4 linked regions of the Homo sapiens genome follow. The protein of the gene in region 1 interacts with the protein of each later gene in a pairwise test. Each region holds a gene or a part of one and is shown on either strand. Other genes may lie near its edges.

Region 1 (3,500 bases):
TCTCCTGGACTTGGAGACGCCGTCTTCTCCCTGTGCCCTCACAGCATCATCCCTCTGTGTGTGTCTGTGTCCTCATCCTCTCTTCTTATGGGATGTCTTAATCCATTTCAGGCTGCTATCACAGAATACCATAGACTGGGTGACTATAAACAACAGACATTGATTTTCCTACAGTCCTGGAGGCTGGAGGTCTGAGATCCAGGTGTGGGCAGGGCTGGTTCCTCCTGCGGCCTCTCTCCTAGGCTTGTAGATGCCGTCTTCTCCCTGTGCCCTCACGGGGTCGTCCCTCTGTGTGTGTCTGTGTCCTCATCTCCTCTTGTTATGAGATGTCTTAATCCATTTCAGGCTGCTATCACAGAATACCATAGACTGGGTGGATTGTAAACAGCAGACATTGATTCTCCCACAGTCCTGCAGGCTGAAGGTCTGAGACCAAGGCATGGGCAGGGCTGGTTCCTCCTGAGGCCTCTCTCCTGGGCTTGGAGATGCTGTCTTCTCAGGCTTTTTCCTGTGTGTGTGTCTGTGTCCTCATCTCTTGTTATGAGATGTCTTAGTCCATTTCAGGCTGCCATCCCAGAACACCATAGACTGGGTGACTTAGAAACAACAGACATTGATTCTCCCACAGTCCTGGAGGCTGGAAGTCTGAGATCCAGGTGTGGGCAGGGCTGGTTCCTCCTGAGGCCTCTCTCCTGGGCTTGGAGACTCCGTCTTCCCTGTGTCCTCACAGGGTCGTCCCTCTGTGTGTGTCTGTGTCCTCGTGTCCTCTTCTGATGAGATGTCTTAGTCCATTTGAGGCTGCTATCACAGAATACCATAGAGTGGGTGGACTGTAAACAACAGACATTGATTCTTCCATAATCCTGGAGTCTGGAAGTCTGAGATCAAGGTGTGGGGCAGGGCTGGTTCCTCCTGAGGCCTCTCTCCTGGGCTTGTAGACGCCGTCTTCTCCCTGTGTCCTCACAGGGTCATCCCTCTGTGTGTGTCTGTGTCCTTATCTGCTCTTCTTATGAGGTGTCTTAGTCCATTTCAGGCTCCTAAAACAATACTATAGACTGGGTGGCTTATAAACAGCAGACATTGATTCTCCCGGAGTCCTGGAGGCTGGAAGTCTGACATCAAGGAGTGGGCAGGGCTGGTTCCTTCTGAGGCCTCTCTTTTTGGCTTGTAGACACCGTCTTCTCCCTGTGTCCTCACAGGGTCATCCCTCCGTGTGTCTGTGTCCTCATCTCTTTTTAGAAGGACACTGGGGTCGTAGGATCAGGGCCCACCCTACTGGCCTCCTTTAGTCTTACCTCTTTCAAGACCTTATATCCAAGTACAGTTGCATCCTGAGGTCCTGGGGTGGGGGTGGGACTTCAGCATGTGGATTTTGAGGACAGAGTGTAACTCCCATAGTAACGGTGACCCTTCAGAAGGTCAGGGCCCTATTCCCTTCCCCAAACAGGCCTAACCCCGGCCTCTGGGACTGTCTTGCTGGGCTCCGGTAGGTGGCAGGCGGCCTTTTCCCCTCTGGCCCTGCCCCGACCTCTCGTGTTGTAAACGTCAGCTGGCACTGAGCAGCCACGTGGAGGGGGCACTGGTGGTCTCGGAAGAGCTCGGCACCACCTCAGGGGGCCGTGAGCACACCCTGGGGGCCGACCCTGGTCTCGGGTGGCCGTGCAGGCGCTGGAGACGGTGACGTGCCGTTCCCGCGCAGGCATGCTCCCCGACCCCAAGAACACGCACATCGTGGTGAGCTGGATGATCGCGCAGACCGTGACGGCCGTGGCCGGCGTGGTGTCCTACCCCTTCGACACGGTGCGGCGGCGCATGATGATGCAGTCCGGGCGCAAAGGAGGTACTCGGGGGGGCGGGGGACCCTTGCTGCCGGGAAGGGGAACCAAGCTCCTTGCCCTAGGCCCGTGGGAGGTCAGGAACCATCAAAGGAGGCACTTCCAGGGCGTGTGAGACAAGCAAGTGTGTCCGAAAGTAACCTGGCTGTGTGGAAGGATTTTCCTGAACGATGGGCTTCTGATCTTTTTGGGGTTTCATGGTCCGGGCGGCAGTTTCTAAATCCCCGCCTCCTAGAACCTCTGGTTGCACCCACACCCTCGATCCTGCCTTCTCTGCATGGACCCCGGGGTGGAGATGGGGGACACCCAGGGCGGGGCCTGAAGTCCTGTGTCCAGCCCTCCCTGAGACAGTGGCTTAGGAGGAGGGCTTGAGCTGGGGGAGCCTCAGGTATCCCTCCTGTAATCAGAACTGTGGCTCAGGCGTCTGGGGTGTTATTTCTGTGAAACGTCTTTGTGGGTGCAGGTGGCGTCCGTGTCTTGAAGAGCTTGGCGGCGAGGCCCTCACTGTCTCCCTGTCGTTGCAGCTGACATCATGTACACGGGCACCGTCGACTGTTGGAGGAAGATCTTCAGAGATGAGGGGGGCAAGGCCTTCTTCAAGGGTGCGTGGTCCAACGTCCTGCGGGGCATGGGGGGCGCCTTCGTGCTGGTCCTGTACGACGAGCTCAAGAAGGTGATCTAAGGGCCGCGGCCTCCTCCACACACACACACACACCAGGGGAACCAAGAGAACCACGTAGAATCCTCAACCGTGCGGACCATCAACCTTCGAGAAATTCCAGTTGTCTTTTTCCCAGCCGCATCCTGCCTGTAGATGGCCGGGGAAGGCTCTAGAAAAGGGGCGCATTGCGATCCAACCATCGGCAGCCGATTCCGTGTCTTGATCACGGGGTGGGAGGGAACCGTGGCGTCCCTGCGTGGGGCCCATGGGTGAGACACTCCAGTACTGAGACCTAGAGTCCAGATGCTTGTAGGAGCCAAGTCGTGTTCTAAGTATTTATTTAAAACAAAAGAATCACGTTTTCCCATTTGTACTTCAGCGCTAGCCCCTGTTTTGCACAGCCGAGTACTGGCGAGTATGTTCTATGTTGGGCCTCCTGCTGCAAAACAATAAACAGAGGACGCAGAGGTCCTCCTGCCTGGCCACGCACCTCTCCACAGGGCGGCCTGGGGTCTGGAGATGGGCGCTGGGCCCACGGGACGCAGATGGGGCCACGCTCTGCCCGTGGCTGGCCCACGTTCCTGGTCTGCAGTGCTGCCTCCTCCCCAGCACCCCTGGGGCACAGAGGGCAGGGTCACAGCTGGGAAGAGGCGGGGGGTAGAAACCAAGGCTGGCAGAAGTGTAGCCGGGCTCCCTGATAAATGCTGGAGGACCCCAGGGCACCTGCACTTACTGTACCCTCTCTGAGAGCATTTGTATGATCTCATGTCTCAGCTCTGGAGGCTGGAGGTCCCAGAAAACCAAGGTATGGTAGATTCAGTCTCTGGTGAGTACCCAGTTCCTGGCTTCTAGATGGCGCCTTCTCCCTGTGTGTCCTCAGATGATGGATGAGGCCAGGGTGCTCTCTGGAGTCCTTTCTGTAAGGGCACTGATCCCATCCATGAGGCCTCATGACTCCCAAAGACCCCCACTTCCCAACGCCATCACTTGGGAGAGGGGCGTTT
Region 2 (7,038 bases), on another chromosome or scaffold:
TCTTGGTTTAGTGCTTAAAGCAGGAGAAAAAATGAAGAATGTTCCTCCTTTTCTCATCTAATTTAATAAACACTTTTGAATAAAGCTCAGACCCACCTAGAAAAACCCACAATCTATTCAGGTGAGATATGTGTAAAAAAAATTACAATAAAATGTGATACATAAAACTAATAAAACTTAGAGACCATTTGCCTAAAGGAATCATGAAAGGGTCACTGAGACACAGTTTTAAATAACATTGGACAATCACCAGTTGTAGAAAAGGGCATTCCAGGCAAAAGGGTGTGTAACTGTATGGAAGCAATAATAAGTACAACATTTTCAGGAAATAAGGAGAATTTGGTGTGACTAGGCCTAGATGCTTGTGGGGAGGCCAGGCTATAAAAAGATGTAAAGTCTAGGCTGTAGAGAGCTATGGAAGTCATGTAAAAGAGTTTGCAGTTTATTCTGCGGATGATGAAAAAATATTAGACATTGTAAGCAGGTGAGATTGTTAGAATATTTGCATTTATAATCAAAGATGTAGTAATATCATGGGTGAATGAGATGGGGAGAGAATAAAGGCAAGAAAACGTATTCAGAAACTACTTCAGAAGCCCAGGTGAGAGATAACATGGCCTTCAACTACAGGGTAGCAGAGGAAATGGGAGGAATAGACAGGTGAAAGGCAACTCAGAGGTTGGCTTGGGTGACTGAGTTGAAATGAGGTCAGAACAAGGGACAGGGAGTTTCTAGCGTGGGTATTTGGGATGTACATGGTTGCTACGTATTTCTGTCAACAAGGTGAGCTGAAAGTACCTGTAGAATATCTCCAAGGAGAACATACAAAGGATAACTAGAAACATGAGCCTGAATGTCAGGGTTGGGTGGAGCTAAGGGAATGATGGTGAGATTCATCAGCAAGCTAATGAAGACAGTGGCAGTGGAGGCGAATACAGACAGTGAAATTCCCTAGGGAGAGCTGTGATGTGGCTCAAAAGAGGGCGCAAAACAGTGCTCCAGGGAGCACAAACATTTAATGGATAAGAACAAGGTAATGAAGAAGCAAAAGGAACAGGGTTCAGAAAACCAGAAAAGCCAGTGCCCTGAATGTCTAGGGAGGGAGATTTCTAAAAGCAAATAGTCAATAACATCAGCAACTTTTCCTCTGGTGACAGTGTACTTATTTCTTTTAGTGAAGTAAACTCTGATTCCCCATCCTGGTGTACATATTTTTTTTTTTGAGACAGGGTCTCACTCTGTCACCCAGGCTAGAGTGCAGTGGTGCGATCATAGCTCACTGCAGCCTCAAACTCCTGGGCTCAAGCAATTCTTCCACTTCAGCCTCCCAAGTAGTTAGGACTACAGGTGCACACCACCACACATGACTAATTTTGTTTTATTTTTATTCTTGTTTTTTTGTAGAGATGGGGTCTTGCTATGTTTCCCAGGCTGGTCTCAAACCTCTAGCCTCAAGTGATCCTCCTGCCTTGGCCTGCCAAAATGCTGGGATTGCAAGCGTGCGCCACCGCACCTGGCCCTGACATATATACTTTAAGCAGTCAAAGTATTTGGTCCTTTTTCTTTCTCTTTCTCTGCCCCCTGAAACTCTTAAAAGGAAGTTAGGGATAGTTGTCTGGAACATCCCAGTTCCTTATCATAATGTTAAATGTGCACCAGAGCTGGGGGACATTTAAGAGCCAGACACCATGATCTAAAAGATGCTAAATAAAGGTATCTGCTGAAGGTAGGAAAGCACTGGCTTTGGTCTCATTAGTTACCTGTAAACCCGACTTGACAGGTGCACTCATAGGTATCCCGGCTGAGCATATGGCATGTGCCGCCATTCAGGCAAGGTCGAGACACAAAGCATGGATGAGATGTCGAGTACTGGCAGTCCTCTCCTGTAAACCCTGAGGCACATCGGCACGTGGCTTTCCCCAGCATGGCCTGGGCCACACAAGTCCCACCATTCTGGCAGCGGTTCTTCTCACAGGGGTCTCGATGTTGACAATATTCCCCCAAGAAGCCTTCTGGACATCTGTATGGAAAAGAGAAGAGTCCATGAAAACACCTGACTTCTTGTAAGTCCAAAAAATTACAGTAAAACAATACAGTCCAATCAAGAAAGCACGAGATTGTGAATCAACAGACCTACAAGGACCACCTATAAAACTGCTTCCCTTTAGAAGAAAGAGTCCTTAGAGAACTTAACCACATACTCCCATGTCCTTTTGAGTCCTGGCAGGTGACAGAGTATCAGGTGTATGGTCTAGCAGGGTCTGCCATGGCCAGTCAACATGACCCTTATTCAAACGCAAAATGCACCCCAGCTTTTTTTCATGTGTGTACAGGTTGGGATGGTGTAACAGCACCTTTTTTAGAGCACTGTTCGTACTTGTCTGCTTAAATTCATTAACTTTCTCATTTTGACTAAGCCATTTGATAGGATTAAGATGTCCACAATATAATGCATGAACTTGACCCTATTATCCCCTCCAATTTAAAATATGTAAGATATCATGTGCTTTTCCTCAATTAAGCATTGAGAAATAGTAAGTGCTTCTTTCTCTTATTTCCACTGAAACATCAATTGGATGATACCTAGTTTTCTGGGTTATGTTCAGGTGGCTGACATTACAACGGAAAAAGGGAAAGGAGGTACAGGAATGGGGAAGAGTTCAAAGGGATATTTAAAAATCTGTTAATATTTAAGTAGGCATTTTTAACCAAATAAAAAGACACAAAATATAATTAAAATAACATAAAATATCTAAGATACCATATAAACACCAAAGTCAAGGAAGGAATCAATTGAAGAATAACATTCTATGATATTTTCCACATTGAGGCACTGAGGAACCTTTTTACATGCCACCCCTTGATTCATAAGATGTACAACCATTTCAAACTGTGTGTATTATTTATGACAATTTTCTCTGAACAATATCAAAAAGGCATGGTAAGTCTCCATTTTCATAATGAAGTTGTTTAAATGGAATCTCTGAGAAGCATTTAAATTAAGAAACACAAACACTTTGATTCTAACTATAAATGCTGCTATATATTTGGCTGGTGCCCCAAATATGTGATTCAACTTATTCCTCGTTTTAGTTTTCAGGGACTAGAAAACTGAATCTAGTAGGCTGTTCCACCATTACCTCAAAGATTACACATTTAAACCAAACTCTAAATCCCCCTCTCAAAAACCAGCTTTTCTGTGCCCAAGCCTTGTTGTCCTGATTTTCCTAATCATTGTGACCTGAAACATTGGGGTCATGAGTGCTTTTGTCTTTGACAGTCATATCCAAGACCTTTCATTAACCATTGGTTGGCAAGGCTAGCTAGCAGGGGTCACAGTTACTGAGAAAAGAGGGAAGGCCAGATACTAGGGAACTAAGACAGAAAATGCCCAGAAGAATTGTGTAGTAGCTAAAATGGCTAAAGGAGAAAACAGGGTGGTGAATAGCTATAGTGGTAGTGAGGTAACTGGCCACAGCCTCTTCACCCCTCCCAGAGCTGCATAAGATAAGCATGGCAGAGCAAGGAGCGGCTAAGGCTCTGGGCATCTTCATGAGTAGGTGTAGCTACAGACCAACAGGCAGTGAAGAAAGTTCATAGCACTGAAACCAAAGATGGCATGCAGGTGACTGTGAGGAGTCTGTATCAAGAAGGTCAGAAGGTCTGGTTTGGAGTTCTGGTGCTGTGACCTTGGACAAGTTACTTATCTTCATTGACTATCCATTTTCTCACATTGTAAATAGTTAATAAGGTCACCTACATCATGAGATTATTCTAAGAACTGAACAAAATCAAGTATGTAAAAAACCTTATAAATGTTAAAAAGTTTTGCAAGTGGGCTGGGCACAGTGGCTCACACCTGTAATTCCAGCACTTTGGGAGGCTGAGGTGTGAGGACCATCTGAGGTCAGGAGTTTGAGAATAGCCCGGCCAACAAGGTGAAACCCTGGCTCTACTAAAAATACAAAAATTAGCCAGGGTGGTGGTGCACGCTTGTAATCCCAGCTACTCGGGAGGCTGAGGCATGAGAATTGCTTGAACCCGGGAGGCGGAGGTTGCAGTGAGCCGACGAGATTGTGCCACTACACTCCAGCCTGGGCAACAGAGTGAGATTCCATCTCAAAAAAAAAAGTTTTGCCAAGTGAAAACATCTTTTCTCTCTTCTTTGTGCTTATTGAGGAAAATACAATGCCCCATCCAAATCACAGCTTGATTTGAGAATAGTTTCTTGTGTTGGTTTTTTGAAGTGGAGGAGCAAAAAGTGCCAATGTAGCATAGCTAAAATTAACTCTGAGATATATTATTAAAAGCATTTGCAGCTTATTCAAGAAATGTGTTATGAATGTTAAAAACTGCAACACAATTCTCACTCACAGTGCAGCCCTCTGGGCATTATTAGATGACTCTTCATTCTCCCATATGGGAATTATGCACCTTCTAAATAATGGCAAATTTTTAAACGTGGGTGGGCTTTGCTCAGCTTTGCTCCTGAACTATTACACCACCCTAACACTATCATGTGGCATATGCTAAGAGAATGCAAAGTCATTTAAATGGTAGCATCATAAACATATAATGGAAATATAAGGTTCCCAGGAAAACAAAAATGAAGCAAAATGGAAGTTTCTAAAGCTAAACAGATGTATTTCTGAATTATTTGTTTCTACAGTTTAATTCACATTGTTGCTCCCTATCAAGTATGGAAAAATAAGTTTTAACCTAAGATATATTTAAGAAATCAGTAAAACCAGAGATTGACAAAGTACAGTTTGCAAGTCTAATTTGGACCACTGCCTGTTTTTGTTTGGCCTGTGAATAGTTTTTTACATTTTTAAATGATTAGAAAAAAAGAACAAAAGAAGGATATTTTCTGACATTTCAAAATTATATACAATTCAAATTTCAGTGTCCATAAATAGTCTTACTGGAACACAGCCATGCTCATTCATTTATAGATTGTCTATGGCTGATTTTCCACTACAACAACAGAGTCAAGTAGCTGTAATGAGACCACAAAGCCTGCAAAAATAATTACTCTCTGGCACTTTACAGAAAAAGTTTGCCAACTTCTGAGTAGAGAACATATGAAGGCTAATTCTATAAATACCATCCAATATGCTTATTAATAATGATCGGTTTCTGATAGGAAATCAACCTTATTAGTTTCCACAAAGAATATTAAACTTATAATCGTTCATTCACACAACAATTAGTAAATGCCTATTATGTGCCAGGCATTTTTCCAGTGCTAGAAAAATTCTTACACTCTTGGAGTTTACATTCTAATAGCGGAAGACGAAAACAAAATTACTAAGTAAAAGATGCACAATAGATGGAGTTAAGTGCTGTGAAAAAAAATTAAACAGGAAGGAATGGAGCTGGGGATGAGGGTGTGGGGTGAGCAAAGAGAAGTATCTCAGTTTAGAATAGGAAAATCAGAGAAGACCTTCACTGACAATACTTGAGTTGAGACCTAAATAAGGTGAGAGTAATCATGCAGGTATCTTAGGAAAACACATTCATGAGAAAGGGAACAGCAAATGCAAAGGCCATAACACAGAGAGCAGCCCTAGCGTGTTTGAGAAACAGCAAGAATATCTGGAGCAGCAGAAAATAGATGAGAGCTGTAACTGGGATGTGGATCAATTGGGGCCTTTAAGCCACTGTAAAGAAAGACTTAGGGTTTTCCTCTAAATGGGATAATACTTACATATGAGGTACAACAGACTTACTCTCCTAAAGCCCGTGTACAGAACCATATATTTGCTTTACGTGAAACTAGACCTACTGTATTAATAAAGTTTGATTTCTATTTAAAATGTTTTAGAGGGCTGGACATCAGCTTAGTTCTTTACTTTTACCTTAGAAGATATACAAGTCTCTTTTAACCCACACTTTCATGAGGTCCCATTTCCCTTTCCAAATTATTGTTTCACAGCTAACCTTCTATGACTGTAGCCTAATTTCAGATATTCCTCTTTCTTTTCCATCTACTTCTTACTTATCCCTCTGCAACAAAACTTTAATTCTAATTATTGTTTAGAAACTGTTTTCTAAAAACAATGACTTTCCTCTAGTCAAGTTCAGTGGTCTCATCTGAAACTTCATAAGGAAATTCTCTCTCCTATAGGGAGAATTGCTAACCACTCCATGTACCGTTTTAATCATTTTACCTTGGCTTCTATGCCTCCCTCTGTCTAACTCAAAACCCAGTGAAGTCTTAGTCTGGATTGCTGATTTCTCCTTCTTCCCCATCTATTATGGCCACCCTAATGTTTAAGTCTGGACTGCACTGCTCTTTCTCTCAAATGCATTTGTTACTGTTGTTGTTCACTTGGTTTTAAACAACTTCCTTCCTGTAACTGACTCCAAAATACACTGTTCCAGTCCCATATGTTCAGTTTTCTAGAAGTCATCTCTCTATCCTAATATGTGCTGCCACTATTTGAAACTAAACATTTGTAAAAGGAGATCATCTTCCCAAGAAACTTTAATTATTCAATTTTTCTAAGGCTTCCACACACAATTTAAAGTAACTTCATCTCTTTAAGTTGTATATAATTTATTACCACATTCTGACAAGACTTGTTAACTGAATTCCTATAATACTTATCATTCGTGTTCACAGTTTCCTTTTTGATACAAATTCTGATCATCTTAAAAGCCTCAGGCCAGACATCATCTTGTTGCTGGCTTTTCCCCCATTTCCAGCCATCCTTGGAATAACAGAACCTTCAGATTCAAGAAATTTAATTTCTATCCAATTAAGTAATCATTTCTAAAATATTTCTAAAAGATGATCACCAGCCTCTGCTTGAATACAAGCATGTAGCATGGTGCCGGATAAATCTTGAGAATTTAATAAATGCTTGGAGTTATTATTGTTCTGCTCTTAAGAGTACAGACTCTGGAACCAGACCACCTGGATTTCAATCCCAACTCCACCATTTACTCAATGTGTAGTCTTGGGCAAGGTACTAAACTTCCCTGTCGTAAAAGAGATGTAATAACAGTGCCTACTTCATAGGATTTTTAAAT
Region 3 (7,038 bases), on another chromosome or scaffold:
GGCTTTGGGTTTTCCATGGAGTCCTGTGGTAGCCACTGAGAAAAGTTGACCAGTGGGCTCCTCAGCTGGGTCTGGGCGCATTTCTCCATTTTACCACGTACTCAGGGGGTTTGGGATGAGTGGGACTTTAAGTTCTTTACTCAGAACTGTGCTGGAAAGAGCACTGGAGAGTAGCTTAGGCCCATAACACAGGTCTGGTGAGCCATAGGGTCGGTCTCATACAGGTCAAGTCACTGTCTTGTGCCTCAGTTTCTCTCTCTCTTTTTTTTTTTTTTTTTTTTAGATGGAGTCTCACTCTGTTGCCCAGGCTGGAGTGCAGTGGTGCAATCTCGGCTCCCTGCAATCTCTACCTCTCGGGTTCAAGCAAGTCTCTGCCTCACCCTCTCGAGTAGCCGGGATTACAGGCGCCTGCCACCATGCCTGGCTAATTTTTTTGTATTTTTTAGTAGAGATGGGGTTTCACCATCTTGGCCAGGTTGGTCTTGAACTCCTGACCTCCTGATCCACCCGCCTCGGCCTCCTAAAGTGCGGGGATTGCAGGTGTGAGCCACTGAGCCCGGCCGAGTTTGTCTGCTATAAAAGTATGATTGTCGTCATTACAGTGATTGCTGATTGAGGGCTTGCTCAGCACCTTTCTGGGGGCTCAACGAATGTTCTGTGATGTTGAGTTCACCACCCTATACCCTGGGAGAGAGATAGTGTGTTTCCATTTCACAGGTCAGCAGACTCGAGCACAGAGAGGTGAGGTAACACAGCCTGGCAGGAGTGGAGTTGGGATTCAAGGCCTGGTCTGAATGGTGGTGCTCTCACATTGCAGTTGCACTCCAAGGGACCCTTGCAAGGTGCTAACAGATGTGAATGCCTTTTGGAAAGTCAAAATTGGTGTTCAGATGGGAGACATTATTTTTCCACACCAGTCAGAGTGAACTTGTGCATGGCTGTGTGCGGGCCAACTGGCAGTGGACAATGGAGTCACCTCTATTTCTTGCAAGGACAGTGGTGCTGAGTGTCTATTATAAGGGTCCGTTTTCCCTGGGATCTGGTGGGAGGCATTCTTTCAGGACCTGTTCAGCTAAACAATGCCTCATTGTGGACATGAAGGACTCTGGACCCTGTGGTTCAGGGTGACCTTTTGAACATGCTTAGCAGCCATTATTATAATAAATATACAAAATGAAAACTTGTGATAAAATACTGTGTGTATTCCCTGCTTACCAAGCGCCAGCCACTGTACCAAGTGTTGTATATTAACGAGCTAATTCAGTCCTCACAGTGACGCCATCCAGGCTCTCTTTCTCCATATTAGAGCTGAAGAAAAAGGAGTAGAGAGGTTGCGACTTGCCCAAAGTCACATACCTAGAAAGTGGTGGGGTGGGTTAGAACTCAGGTCTATTTGATTCCCGAGGCTTCCTGCCCAAGCACTGTCTGTCTCAACCCTACCTGGTCAAGCCAAGCAGTGAGGCTCCAGGGAACTTGAGGTGCCTTAGGTCAGGTAGGAGCCCCAGGTATGCCTGGGATCCAGACCATAGTGTACTGGCTGCCAGCGCAGGCCATCTCCCCTTGATAGGTGGGTGGGCAGGCTGCCCTGAGTCAGCAACCTCTTGAGCCCAGGAGCTCAGCATGGAACTCAGCTGTGCTGGTGGTGGCCCAGCTGCCAGGGTGTTTCAAAATAGAAGCTACCCCTGGAAAGCTCTACTGCCCACTGCGAGACTGTTGTGGAAGAATGGAGGGAGAGAACAGCTGCATTGGGTACGCAGACCTGCTACCAGAACACAGGGCCATCAGCCTTTGCCAGCATCCTGGAGCTTGAACCAGGAACTGTTCCCCTGGGTTGTTTCTTCCTGGCAAGAAAGAGAAAGTGCTGGAGTGTGTGTGTGTGCATGCGTGCATGTGTGTGAGCGAGCTGCTGATTGTGTTCGCCCCCATGTTGGCTTTTAGAGCTAGGGTTGCCTTCTGCTGGGGAAGTTGCTTTTCCTGGTCCTCAGGGCTAGGAAGAGGTGCTGTTTCTGTGATCACTGGCTGGTCTGATACCCCTCCTATAGGCTGGCCTAGTTCTGCCCTGACAAACCACCTAGAATGGTGTTGGTGAAACAGCGGGGCCAGAGACTTTTCCATAGTACTCTCTTCCTTGGCAGAATCATAAGATGATGGCAATGATGATGATGATGGTTGTGATTGCTCTGTTGGTTAGCGTCTTTGCAGGGATCTGGTGCACACTTACACTTGGTAATCCAGGAGAGTTTAATGAAGACATCATTTGCAAAGCTGTGGATGGGGTGTCAGGTCTGGTCTGTTAACACCCTGAGGCCTACAAGAGAGGGAGCTTCTTGGCAGGAGCTGTGGCCTTGGGTAGAGGAAGGTAGTCATTGCCCATCTGAAGCCTAGCAGGGAGGGAGACTCGGGGTGAGTACCCCGACTTCATTCTTCCCTAAACTCCCGTCTTCTGCAAGTACCTCACGTTGAAAGGCTAAGCCCAATCATAAGCCCATGGACAGCAGTCCATAATGATCAGTTCTGGGGGCACAGAGCAGGGTGGAAGGGAGGAGAATGGATCTGGAGGGGCAGACAGAGTATCCAGTGTAGTGGATTATGGTTATTACTGCCATTTGTTGAACACTTACTCCATGCCAGATACTTCTGCTGTTCTGCCTGTTTCACTCATTCCTTGTAACAACTTCCTTAGGCCTAAGGCCTTTCCTCCCAGCTGTTTTTAGCTGAGTCTTGGAGACCCATGGCCACCCTGCTCCCTGTATCAACCATTGCAGTAGTTGTTGGCTCTCTAGGGGTGCAAAGCTCATCTGCCTGAATCCTTCTATTATTACTATTTATTTCTTTTTATTTTTTATTTAAAAGAGACAGGGTCTCACTGTATTGCCCAGGCTGGTCTCGAACTCCTGCATTCAGGCGATCCTCCTGCCTCAGCCTCCCAAAGTGCTGGGATTAGAGGCGTGAGCCACCATGCCTGGCACATGCCTGAATCCTTTTGAGGGAGCCTCTGCAGAGAAGAGAGCATATTTCTACCAGGCGGGGGCCTGGTAGGTGCTTAGTGCAGGAACCGCCCTGAGCTGCTGCTTCTCAGTGGCACCTGGGGGCAGCCCTGCCTGTTAGGCACAGGCTGAGAGGTAGGGCAGGAGGAGTTCCATCTCTTCTGGCAGGCTCTTCTTGAACAAGCGCCTCCGGTGATTCTTGTGCACCCTGAAGTTAGGGAGCTCTTTCCTGCTCATGATTTCTGGCAGGGTGGCCAAGCCACTAGTGGTCACCTGGGAGTGAAATGTGCCCCGACGGACCTTGCCTGATAACTCTTCCATCTCAGTGTAGTTTAAATCTGTTCTTGCAATCTGTATGGACACTCTAGGTAGCCTTCTGGCATTGCTACTGCAGCAGCCTTGGAACGTGATTTGGGACACAACACAGCTCAATTTCAGGCACAGTGGTTGGCTTTTAAAGTGCTGTTTTTTTGGAGAGGGAGTCTCTCGCTCTGTCACCCAGGCTGGAGTGCAGTGGCACGATCTTGGCTCACTGCAGCCTTTGCCTTTGGGTTCAAGTGATTCTCATGCCTCAGCCTCCCAAGTAGCTGGGATTACAGGCACTTACCACCACGCCCGGCTAATTTTTGTATTGAAATTCTTTATCCTTAAACAAATTATTAGTATACACAAACAGCTTAAATAATGAAGCAGAACAAAAAATGAAAATTCGATTTGAAGTGCATTCCTTCCCTAAACCTCCTTCTCCAGAAGCGTATCTAAGCCAGCCCCAATTTGCAGATTGGCTTGTATCCTTCCACATGCTTTCCCATCCATTCATGAACATAGAAAGATGTGTAAAAAGGTTTTCCTCCAATTACATGGAATTACAAATTTTCTGACTTTTTTCATTTAACTGTATCATAGCTAGCTAGCTTTCTTTCTTTTTTTTTTTTTTGTTTCGAGACGGAGTTTTACTCTTGTTGCCCAGGCTGGATTACAATGGCGCGATCTCAGCTCACCACAACCTCCACCTCCCAGGTTGAGGCAATTCTTCTGCCCCAGCCTCCCGAGTAGCTGGGATTACAGGCATGCGCCACCACGCCTGGCTAATTTATTTTGTATTTTTAATAGAGACAGGGTTTCTCCATGTTGGTCAGGGTGGTCTCGAACTCCTGACCTCAGGTGACCCGCCCACCTCGGCCTCCCAAAGTGCTGGGATTACAGGCATGAGCCACTGCGCACGGCTATCGTAGCTTCATAGCTAGCTTTCTATGCCACCACATACATCCACCTTATTCTTTTTTTTTTTTTTTTTTTTTTGTGAGACAGTCTCGCTCTGTCATCCAGGCTGGAGTGCAGTGGCATGATCTTGGCTCACTGCAACCTCTGCCTCCTGGTTTAAGCTTGTGCCTCAGCCTCTCAAGTAGCTGGCATTACAGGCGTGCACCATCACACCTGGGTGATTTTTTTTTTTTATTTTTTTTTTATTTTTAGTAGAGACGGGGTTTTGCCATGTTGGCCAGGTTGATCTGGAAGTCCTGGCCTGAAGTGATCCGCCCACCTCAGCCTCCCAAAGTGCTGGGATTACAGGCATGAGCCACCCACCTTATTCTTTTTGATTACCATATGGTACTCCTTAGTTTGCAAGTATAGTACCTTAATTTTTATTCATTCATTTTCCTTTTGATGGACTTTTAGGTTGCTTCTGGGTTTTGTGTTACAAATACTGCTGCAGTGAGCATCCTCATATACACATCTTTGAGTAGTGCCTTGGTTGCTACAGTGGGGCAGGTTCCTAGAAGTGGAATTGCCACTAGGGTTAATGCTGGGTTAATTGCTCTCCAAAAAGAGTGTACCTGTAGTACTCCCCCTTGGCGTGAACAAGAGTGACTGTTTTCCACACCCTCACTGACACTGGATATTATTTACGTTTTTGCCAGACTGCTGGTTAAGTGAGCTTCTGAAACACAGATGTGGTAGTCACTCAACAGTGGCTCTTGGTGGCCCTTAGAATAAAATCCATGCATGGTATTGAGGTCAGAAGCAACCAGTGCTTCTGATGGCACTTGGTCTCCTCAGCCTGAGATCAGCTCTCCTTAGGCCGAGGTGGGAGCAGGCAGGGAGTGGAGGTCATTGCTAGTTGAGGGTCTCCCCAACTCCCCCACTCTTGGTGATGCTGCAACAGTGAGCCTGCAGAGGGAGCTCTTACTTCCTGGTTGCATTGTAATGAGTTCCTATTGTCAGATTCCAAGTTTCTACTTTTTTCCCCATTGCTAAATAATACTTTGATGCTCATTGCTCATTCACTCATCAAACACATTTATATTGAATGCCTATTATGTGCCAGGGCTTAGCATCTTTATATACGTAACTTTTTCCATATTTTGGATAAATTTATGCATGACAGGCTCTGGGGTGCTTTGAATTCAAAGAGGTGATTTTGGGGGTAGGTGTATGGGGTAGGGTGGGGTGGGGGCACGGTGAGCACAGCAGCTGTCATTGCCATTCAGCTGATGAGCCAAGAAGGATGTGTACCCCCAAGACAGAGGTTACGTAAGTATTATGCAGACTGTGCTGGGTGATAGATACACTATCCTTCCCCTCTGTGCTTCCAGTATGGGCCGGATTTTCATTCCTCAGCTGGAATGGGGCTTGCATAATTTGTTCAAGGTCAGCCAAGGAAAGGTTGGGTAGGTAGACTGGCAGGCTGTGGAGGGGAACCAGGGACTCCTGTATCCTGGTGTGACTTGCTGGTCCTTCTCAAAGTCTTCAGTGACTGCAGGCAGGTCTGCTCAGCCTGGCCCTGCCCATCCCTCTGTTTCCTACCAACCAGTGGGAACAAAGCCCCCAGGCTCTGCCCTGAAGCCATCACTCAGGCAGAGAGGCCTGTGGTTCTGACTCCCCCAGGACGCCCTCTGACTTCTGTCTGTCCAGGGCTAGCTGCTTTGCCGATGCCAGACTGCCCTGCTTCATGCGCAGCCTCTAGAGGCTCAGCTTGTGAAGGCCCCTGGGGGGTGGATGCTGCAGAGACAGCTGTGTATCAGTAGCTAACTGTACAGGCTCCGATTTGGAGCAGATCTGGGTGGAAGGAGTGACTGGGAGGGGTGGGGGCCAGGGTTCAGCCTTCAAGTCAGCACCCTGGCAGGGTGTTAAGTGAAAGCAGGCTTTGTTGCCGACTTTTCTTTCCTCCAGTCCTCGCCTTAGAAAATTAATGCAGATTATTATTTCTATCATAAAATTGTCTCTGAAATGGGTTCGAGAGCTGTGTAAAAATGGGCATTTTGGGGGTGCTGTCTGTAGCTGTAAGAAAGCTGAACTTCTCGGAGCGGCAGAGCTGTCTCGGGCCTTCCTTAGTTCCGTCAGATCAGTGCAGCAGGGGATGGGCCGAAGTGCACAAAAAGGAGGGGAAGCTACCACTACCTGGCAGTTGGGGGCCTTTAGTGAAAGGGTGAGTCATCCTTTTGCTGTCCTCGGTGGTGTCACTTCAGGCCCAGGAGTGGACTTGACTCCATTCAGCCAGTGGTTTCTGTGAGTCTTCCTTGCCAGGTGCTATGCTGGGGAGAATGCTTACTTGGGGGCCCAGAACGGGGGAGATTATGCTTCATTGTCGGTGTTCAAGGAGATGGGGAAGAGAGCAAGACACAGATGAGAAAGCCAGCATCCAGTATGTTTACAGTGAGGCATTGGATAGGGATATGTTTTAGTGAACCAGCAAGTTCACTTGCGTGCTGCTGGTACCAACTACATGGTTGTGTTGTGGAACCCCACAGCCCCAAAAGAGCTTGGCCGTGTCGGAGCTCCTAGAGGCCCCAGGAGGGGTCCGGTCTGCTCTTCTGAGCTCTGCTCTCTGAGTGCCTTGTCCTTGGGTGGTAATCTCTTTAGTGGCCTTGTACTTCAGGCTGATGTTTGCTGTGGGTGGGGTGTTTTTTGACAGGTGGCTGTGCTTGTTGGATTTTGGGGATTAGCGATGAGAGAGGGCATTTGGGGAACATTTAATGGATGAGTGCTCTGCCTTTATCCTGAGCGGGGACCAGTCCAGATGTGAAGGCTGCTGTGTCTGGGAGGCGTC
Region 4 (7,038 bases), about 110 Mb from region 1:
CTTCATCTATCAAGGTCTGTTTATACAACTTTAAAGTAGAGCGCTTCGACTAGACCAAGTCAAAGGCCTAATATCTTATGAGTCTAAGAACTGAAGTTAACAAGATTATTTCCCTCTGCAGCCTTGATATGAATGAGAGTATCAACTTGAGTGAAATAAAAAAATTGAATTTGCTACACATTTATACATATCAGGTATAAATAATAACCAAAAGAGGCACAAACCATAGTCATTGTGACTACTCTCAATATTATTTGCAACAAATTACAGGACAAATATATCCTATTCTGAGTACTGCTACTCTCACCAACATTATACTTTTTACAGAAGTTACAATGAATCATCCACTGCATGGCAGGAGGAAAATCTCCATTCCCTTCTTGCCCTCCTTTTATCCTATCTGGGTCTTTCTTCTAGCTTGGCTTATGTACTCAGGTTCTATTTGGAGTGGTAATTTTACTATCCGTTTAAACATTTTATTTTTCTAGAATATCTGCTAAGTAGCTCCCTTCTTAAGAGAAATTATACAACATAGCAGACAAGCAATGGGAATAAAACAATTCGCTGGATCATCAGTGTAAGGTAGGAGGACTTTTTATGGGCACTTAGACTTGTACATACATATTATATGACACAACAACTTTAGAAAACTCTGTCCATTGAATACACATAAATGACTAGGAACTTGTAAGGCAGGAACTATAAACAAATGCTTCAGTTTGTAGCCCATAATAGTGAGCACTGTCACAAAATTTGATACTGGATAAAATATTTATTGCCTTCAGTTTAAATTGTTCATTCAGATATTTAATTATCCCTCCCAATTTCGTGGTATACTGAAGTTTCTTCAGTTCTTTGTTTTGTTTTGTTTTGTTTTGTTTTTAAAGGCAGGCTTAGAATTAGCCCTATGTTAAAGGCTTAATGGCAATTTGTAATGGCCAATGCCAAACTTTTGTTTCTTTAGTGTATTGAGTACACAAACACAAACATACAATAATGTCCTCCACAAAAATCTCTCACCTACCTAGATACACTCAGCCACCTCCACCCACACCTACACAGAGACACACCCTGCCTTCCCATTGCCATATACCTACATATGCAAATCGACACATATGCTAATTGTAGTACACGTACACAAGTACTCACATACTTAAAAGAAGAGGTGGAAAGATCATAGCAAAGATATATAATAAGCAATATGTCACTGACAGAAGATAGAGGGTGTGTTTCCCTGGATGAACTACTGGTGTTGCAGGCCATGAGCTGACTCCCCAAAAGTTAGCCAGAAGTGTGTGACTGCAAGAATGTTTATGCAACAGATGAGATAGGCTCCAGGAAGAGCTTGCAGGAGAGCAGGTTATTCCTCATGAGAACAACTTAAAGTTAACTCACTTGTCATATAGGAAAAGTCACCTATTTTATTAGAGAACTTGCTAACTGCATTTATGCGACAAAGTTGTATAGGGGATGCTCCCCAGATCCCTTACCTTGAGTTTCTCAAATCGATCATTCAGGGATGCGACCTGATGGTCTCGGTGACGACCCACCAGTTTGCATAAGGCACAGATCAATTGGTCATCAGATACACAGTACATGTTCACTTTCTCATTCTCATGGTCCAGGCAGGTGATCCCTCGAAGATGTGTGTCTGGCACTGGTTCCACCAGGCGGTGGCTGGTGAAAGGTTTCTTGTTGGGGTGCGTGGCCCGCAGGCAACGGTCACAGTAGGAGACCTCACAGGTGATGCATGTTTTTACTGCATCCCTTGGCGGGTCCTGCTCACAGAATTGGCAAGCAATTCGCTCGCTAGACATGGCAGTGGTGGGCCTGTAAGTCCTTTCCCGGCGGCTCTCACTAGGGGAATTGGGCCCACTGACTGAAGCCTTCTGGAAGCGATCAATAATGTTCTGCAGAGTCACATTCCTCTTGAGGCCATCCAGGCCCCGGTGGTTCAGCGAGATAACATACCTGCAGGTAGGACACTGGAAAGCAGTAATGGGTTCAATGGATTCACCAGAGCTGCAGCTTGATACCAAAATGCGATGGGCACAGCTGAAGCAGAGGCTGTGAGCACAAGGGAGCAGAAGGGGGTCTTCAAACAACTCTAGGCAGATTGGACAGGTCAATTCAGACTCCAGTGTTTCCATCTTTAGTGAAAATAGTCCTCCTGAGGCATTAAGAACCACGGAGGCTGGGCTTTCACCTGCAAGGAATACAAAGCAAGAGTCATTAGGCATTTCCAAAGGAAAATGGATATAACACAATTATACACTAACCAATGGGCGCGTTTACGTGCTGGATTCCCCAGAGATGCTTAAGCAATAGAAAAGCAATTTGGGAACTAATCAGGAAGACTTTCTTCCCCTTCAAACCTTGTTTTAGACAAATGCCTATGTTTATTTTCATGCACAAATAGATAAAACCAAATGGCCACCTCTGAATCCTGATAGACTGATTAACATTACCATTCCAGCTCACAATATTTGCATGGATCATTCTCTCACATATTCTCCACTGACATCTCTTTTCCTAGACTAAGATAAGGCTGAGACCCTGCAAAATTCCCAATCTCTATTCTCCAATATTGTTCTCTATTTCACTTCAAGGTAAACTGTAGGGCTGCTTCTATGTGACATCCAGTGTAAGGAAAACAATGCCATATTTTAAAGTAACTCTCTACTTCCTGAAATGATTCCATTCTGAAAGCCTGCATAAAAAAGAGAGAGCTTTAGAAAAATGTAGCCCTTGGTGCAGGATAATAAGTTTTTCCTCAGAGTGTGAACTTGAATTACTTCTTATTATCACACATGGAAATTTCCGTTCCATTCTATTCCTAGTAAACTGAGTTACTTGAGATAAAAGATGATAGTTTTCACTTTCATCTTCTTCCCTCACCTTCAGAAACCCCTTCAGTTCATCAAGCTGAATGGGGAATGATTTCAAACTTTTCAACCTACTCAGCAATAGTTGCTGATCAATAATAAAGTCATATTGCCTTGTGGCTTCAGTTTGGTTTCATTACTAAACACCTGCTGAACTAGCACAAGCCAGCTATGAAGCTCACCTCCCATGTGTCTTTTCATACTTTCTAAAACATAACAGGATGCAAATCAATATCTAGATAGAAATTAGCAAAGTTCCAGAAATTTTAAGATCTGGTAACCTTCAATTTAGTGAGCATCAGTGAGTAAAAGAGGTCACCCGGCCGGGCACAGTGGCTCACGCCTGTAATCCCAGCACTTTGGGAGGCCAAGGTGGGTGGATCACGAGGTTAGGAGGTCCAGACCTTCCTGGCCAATATGGTGAAACCCTGTCTCTACTAAAAATGCAAAAATTAGCTGGGCGTGGTGGCGCTTGCCTGTGGTCCCAGCTACTCGGGAGGCTGAACCAGAAGTATCGCTTGAACCTGGGAGGTGGAGGTTGCAGTAAGCCGAGATCATGCCACTGCACTCTTGCCTGGGTGACAGAGTGAGACTGCCAAAAAAAAAAAAAACAAACAAAACAAACAAAAAAAGCCACCCAACTGACAAGAAACCAACCTCTTGGTAACTCTATCTATTTTTCCACAGGCATTTCTGTGCTGAACACACAGGTACCTAATTCTTAATTGCCTAGAGTCTTCCATTAATTAAAATACACACACATAAATATTCTAAGTTGTCTTTAACTAAGGAAAAATATAAAACATATCTTACTGACTGAAAATGTTAATCCTATGTATAGGAAAGAAAAAGGGCATCTTTCTTGCTTTTTTTTTTAACAAGGTGTCCCTCTGTCATTCAGGGTGGAGTGCAGTGGTACAATCTTGGCTAACTGCAACGTCCACCTCCTGGGCTCAAGCGATCCTCCTGCTTCAGCCTCCTGGGCTCCGCCTCCTGGAACTCCAGGGGTATGCCACCAAGCCCAGCTAATTTTTGTTTATATTTTTTGTAGAGACGTGGTTTTGCCATGTTGCCCAGGCTGATCTTGAACTCCTGGGCTCAAGCAATCTGCCCACCACAGCCTCCCAAAGTGCTGGGATTACAGGAGTGAGCCACAGAGCCAAGCCCAAGAAAAGCATTGTTTGCTTTTGAGTAGCTTTTGTTTATTATCTTGTCATCATTGGAGACTCTCATCAGAGCTTGAAAATTTTGCTCTGCCATTGGTATTTGTTCAGATATTGTCACAGGATACATAAGTACTGAGTACAATTATACTTTATGCCTAAGTACAATAGATGTACACCTAAAAGCTGTTTCTAAATCAAACCTTTTAAATGCACTGAACTAACTACCTATTTAATGAAAATCTATATGAAATGAGGTTATAAAAGTGAAGAATCTTTTTGTAAATCAGTCACTCAGTTGGTTTAGTAGATTCAGATGTTTGTACAGCCAGTTTTTTTAAGTGAGACAAGGTATTTTTCTTTTAGAATTTACAGGTGCTTGAAAGTTGTTGGCCAGTATTTTGTAGCTTATAACATCTATCAACGTTCACCCATACAGATGAAAAAGTAAACAATTAAAATGTACATACATCATTGAATCTTAGAATTGGAAGAGACTTTTGAGAGATGAAGATTCCAACTTCCACTGACAGCAGGAATATTGCCTTAGAGAGCTCCATTTGATATATTACTCAGATTCTCAAACTCAACATGTCTATAAATGAACTTGTTGTGCTCCTCCTCACCTCCACAAAACAAAACAAACAAAAAACACCTGCTCCTCTTCTGATTTTCCCTGTCTGGTGAATATCACCATCCAAGCCTAGAAATCTAAGAGATCTCTCATCTACATGTTTTTATCACCTCAACCACTGGTGGCTTCCAGAACATTCTGTTTTATTTCACTTACATAGCTGTATTTCCAGCTAACTCTTCCTTCTCCTTGAGAGTATCAACTATTTTATATTTTCATTCACAGCACAAGTTTGTGCTTCACACAAACTGTATTCAATAATTGTTAATGAAGTATCACTTAAACTAGGAGTAAGAAGGGGTCTAGCATTCATTGAGCATCTCCTGTATTCTGAGTACTATGTTAAGCACTTTACACATTATTTCACTAATTCTTTCAGGAAACTTGTGAGGAAGTTACTATTACTGTATCCACCTTACAGTTAGGAAACTAGGGCTTAGAATCATTAAATAAATCAACCAAAAACATACATACCCAGAGCACAGGTCAGTATAATTCCAATGCCTGTGCTCTTTTCCCTTACCTTTATTTCAATCATCTCACCTCCTTCACTGAGGTTTATCTGGACCATTTACAAGACAGTTTTTTTTTTTTTTGAATTCTGGAAATCTTTACTTTGGTATATTTAACATAGTTTATAGAGTTTTTTTTTTTTAAACAGCATGTTTCTACGTCTATTTTTATCTCTCTCTGTCTCTCTTACTTTCTCTGAATCTGCCTATTTCATTCTGAGTTCCTTCCAGAATCATATCTCTGTCTTCTAGGCCCATCTCCACCTCACACTGCACTTCTATTACTATCTCTTCTAGAACTGTATGCCTGCATTCCTCAATGTCTGTGTTGGAAGCTACCTGGGTTGGTCACATGTATTGCTGAAAGCCATGTCTATGTATGCTGAAAACTATATAACAACAATTAGAGTACCACAGCTTTCCTAAGGCTTAAGAGGGTGCCATATAAATTGTCCTGTACAGAGGAAAAGCTCTTAAATTTTGTTTGGAAATCTAAAATTTATTTCCAAGTCAGTGTGACACTTGAACCTCATTATGAAATTAAGCTTGGGAAAGCACGCTATGGGTCAGGATTGCTTTGGGTAAGGTCAAAATAGGATTTATTAACCGGGGACTTCTGAACTTCCTAGAACTGTTTGCAGAATGTGTTTGTATGTCATATATGCATTTTTCCTGGGGAAAGGGTTGCCCATAGCTTTCAAAAGATTCTCAAGAGTCTTTGAAAGAAAAAAACCCAATCATTAGTACTCTAAAATAACCTACCTTAACTTATTTCAGCTCTGTAAAGAATATTTTAAGATAGTTACTGCCTCTTGCTTATTTTAGCTTTTCTAGACTGTTTCGAATCTGTTTGATTTTTAATTATCATATATTAACTGTTTTAGCCAATTTTCGGGTACTGAATACTTTTATCAACTTCTTCAGACGTGTTCAATCATCTCTAATTTATGAGGCTTTCTTGTTCTGGGTACTCCTAATATTTTAGAATCCTTTCAATTATCCCCCATTTCCCCTACCTTTCTGGTTATCTAAGCACCTGAACAATACCCTTTATGCGCATTGCCTCATTTACTTTTCACAACAACTCTCTAAAAGGTAGGTATTATCATTATTTAAAAAAAAAAAAAAGTAGGCTGGGCGTGGTGGCTCACGCCTATAATCCCAACACTTTGAGAGGTTGAGGCAGGCGGATCACAAGGTCAGGAGATCGAGACCATCCTGGCCAACATGGTGAAACCCCGTCTCTACTAAAATACAAAAAATTAGCAGGCGTAGTGGCGCATGCCTGTAGTCCCAGCTACTCGGGAGGCTAAGGCAGGGGAATTGCTTGAACCCGGGAGGCGGAGGTTGCTTGAGCCGAGATCGTGTCATTGCACTCCAGCCTGGCAACAGAGCGAGGCTCCGTCTCAAAAAAAAAAAAAGTAACTTGTTCAAGGTCACACTTGTTTCTAAGTGGCAAAACTAAGAATCAAACTTAGGATAAAACTTTAGAAATAAACCTATATATATCTATGGTCAACTGATTTTCAACAAGGGTTCCAAGACCATTCGATGGAGAAAGAATACTCTTTTCAACAAATGGTGCTTGGACAACTGGATATCCACATGCAAGAGGATGAAGTTGGAGTTCTACTTCATATCATTTATAAAAATTAACTCACAACAGATCAATGATCTAAATGTAAGAGCTGAAACTATAAAACTCTTGGAAGGAAAGATAGGCATAAATCTTTGTGAACTTAGGTTAGGCAGGCAACAGTTTCTCAGATGACACCAAAAGCATAAGCAACCAAAGAAAATATACATAAATGGTACTTTATCAAAATTTAAAATTTGAGTGCTGC

Evidence for each region.
Region 2: the proteins of SLC25A6 (region 1) and NOTCH2NLA interact in binary tests that used the Homo sapiens proteins (3 or more experiments, as listed by UniProt).
Region 3: the proteins of SLC25A6 (region 1) and VDAC1 interact in binary tests that used the Homo sapiens proteins (3 or more experiments, as listed by UniProt).
Region 4: the proteins of SLC25A6 (region 1) and MID2 interact in binary tests that used the Homo sapiens proteins (3 or more experiments, as listed by UniProt).

The regions. Positions count from the first base shown.
Region 1 is NC_000023.11:1,385,619-1,389,118, reverse strand, and holds the end of SLC25A6 (ADP/ATP translocase 3), read left to right. Parts: intron 1-1,699; coding exon 1,700-1,840; intron 1,841-2,359; coding exon 2,360-2,517; 3' UTR 2,518-2,967; downstream 2,968-3,500. UniProt on the Homo sapiens protein: ADP:ATP antiporter that mediates import of ADP into the mitochondrial matrix for ATP synthesis, and export of ATP out to fuel the cell.
Region 2 is NC_000001.11:146,162,991-146,170,028, forward strand, and holds part of NOTCH2NLA (notch homolog 2 N-terminal-like protein A), read right to left. Parts: intron 2,021-7,038; coding exon 1,761-2,020; intron 1-1,760.
Region 3 is NC_000005.10:133,994,959-134,001,996, reverse strand, and holds part of VDAC1 (non-selective voltage-gated ion channel VDAC1), read left to right. Parts: intron 1-7,038. UniProt on the Homo sapiens protein: Non-selective voltage-gated ion channel that mediates the transport of anions and cations through the mitochondrion outer membrane and plasma membrane.
Region 4 is NC_000023.11:107,835,838-107,842,875, reverse strand, and holds part of MID2 (probable E3 ubiquitin-protein ligase MID2), read right to left. Parts: intron 2,207-7,038; coding exon 1,491-2,206; intron 1-1,490. UniProt on the Homo sapiens protein: E3 ubiquitin ligase that plays a role in microtubule stabilization. Mediates the 'Lys-48'-linked polyubiquitination of LRRK2 to drive its localization to microtubules and its proteasomal degradation in neurons.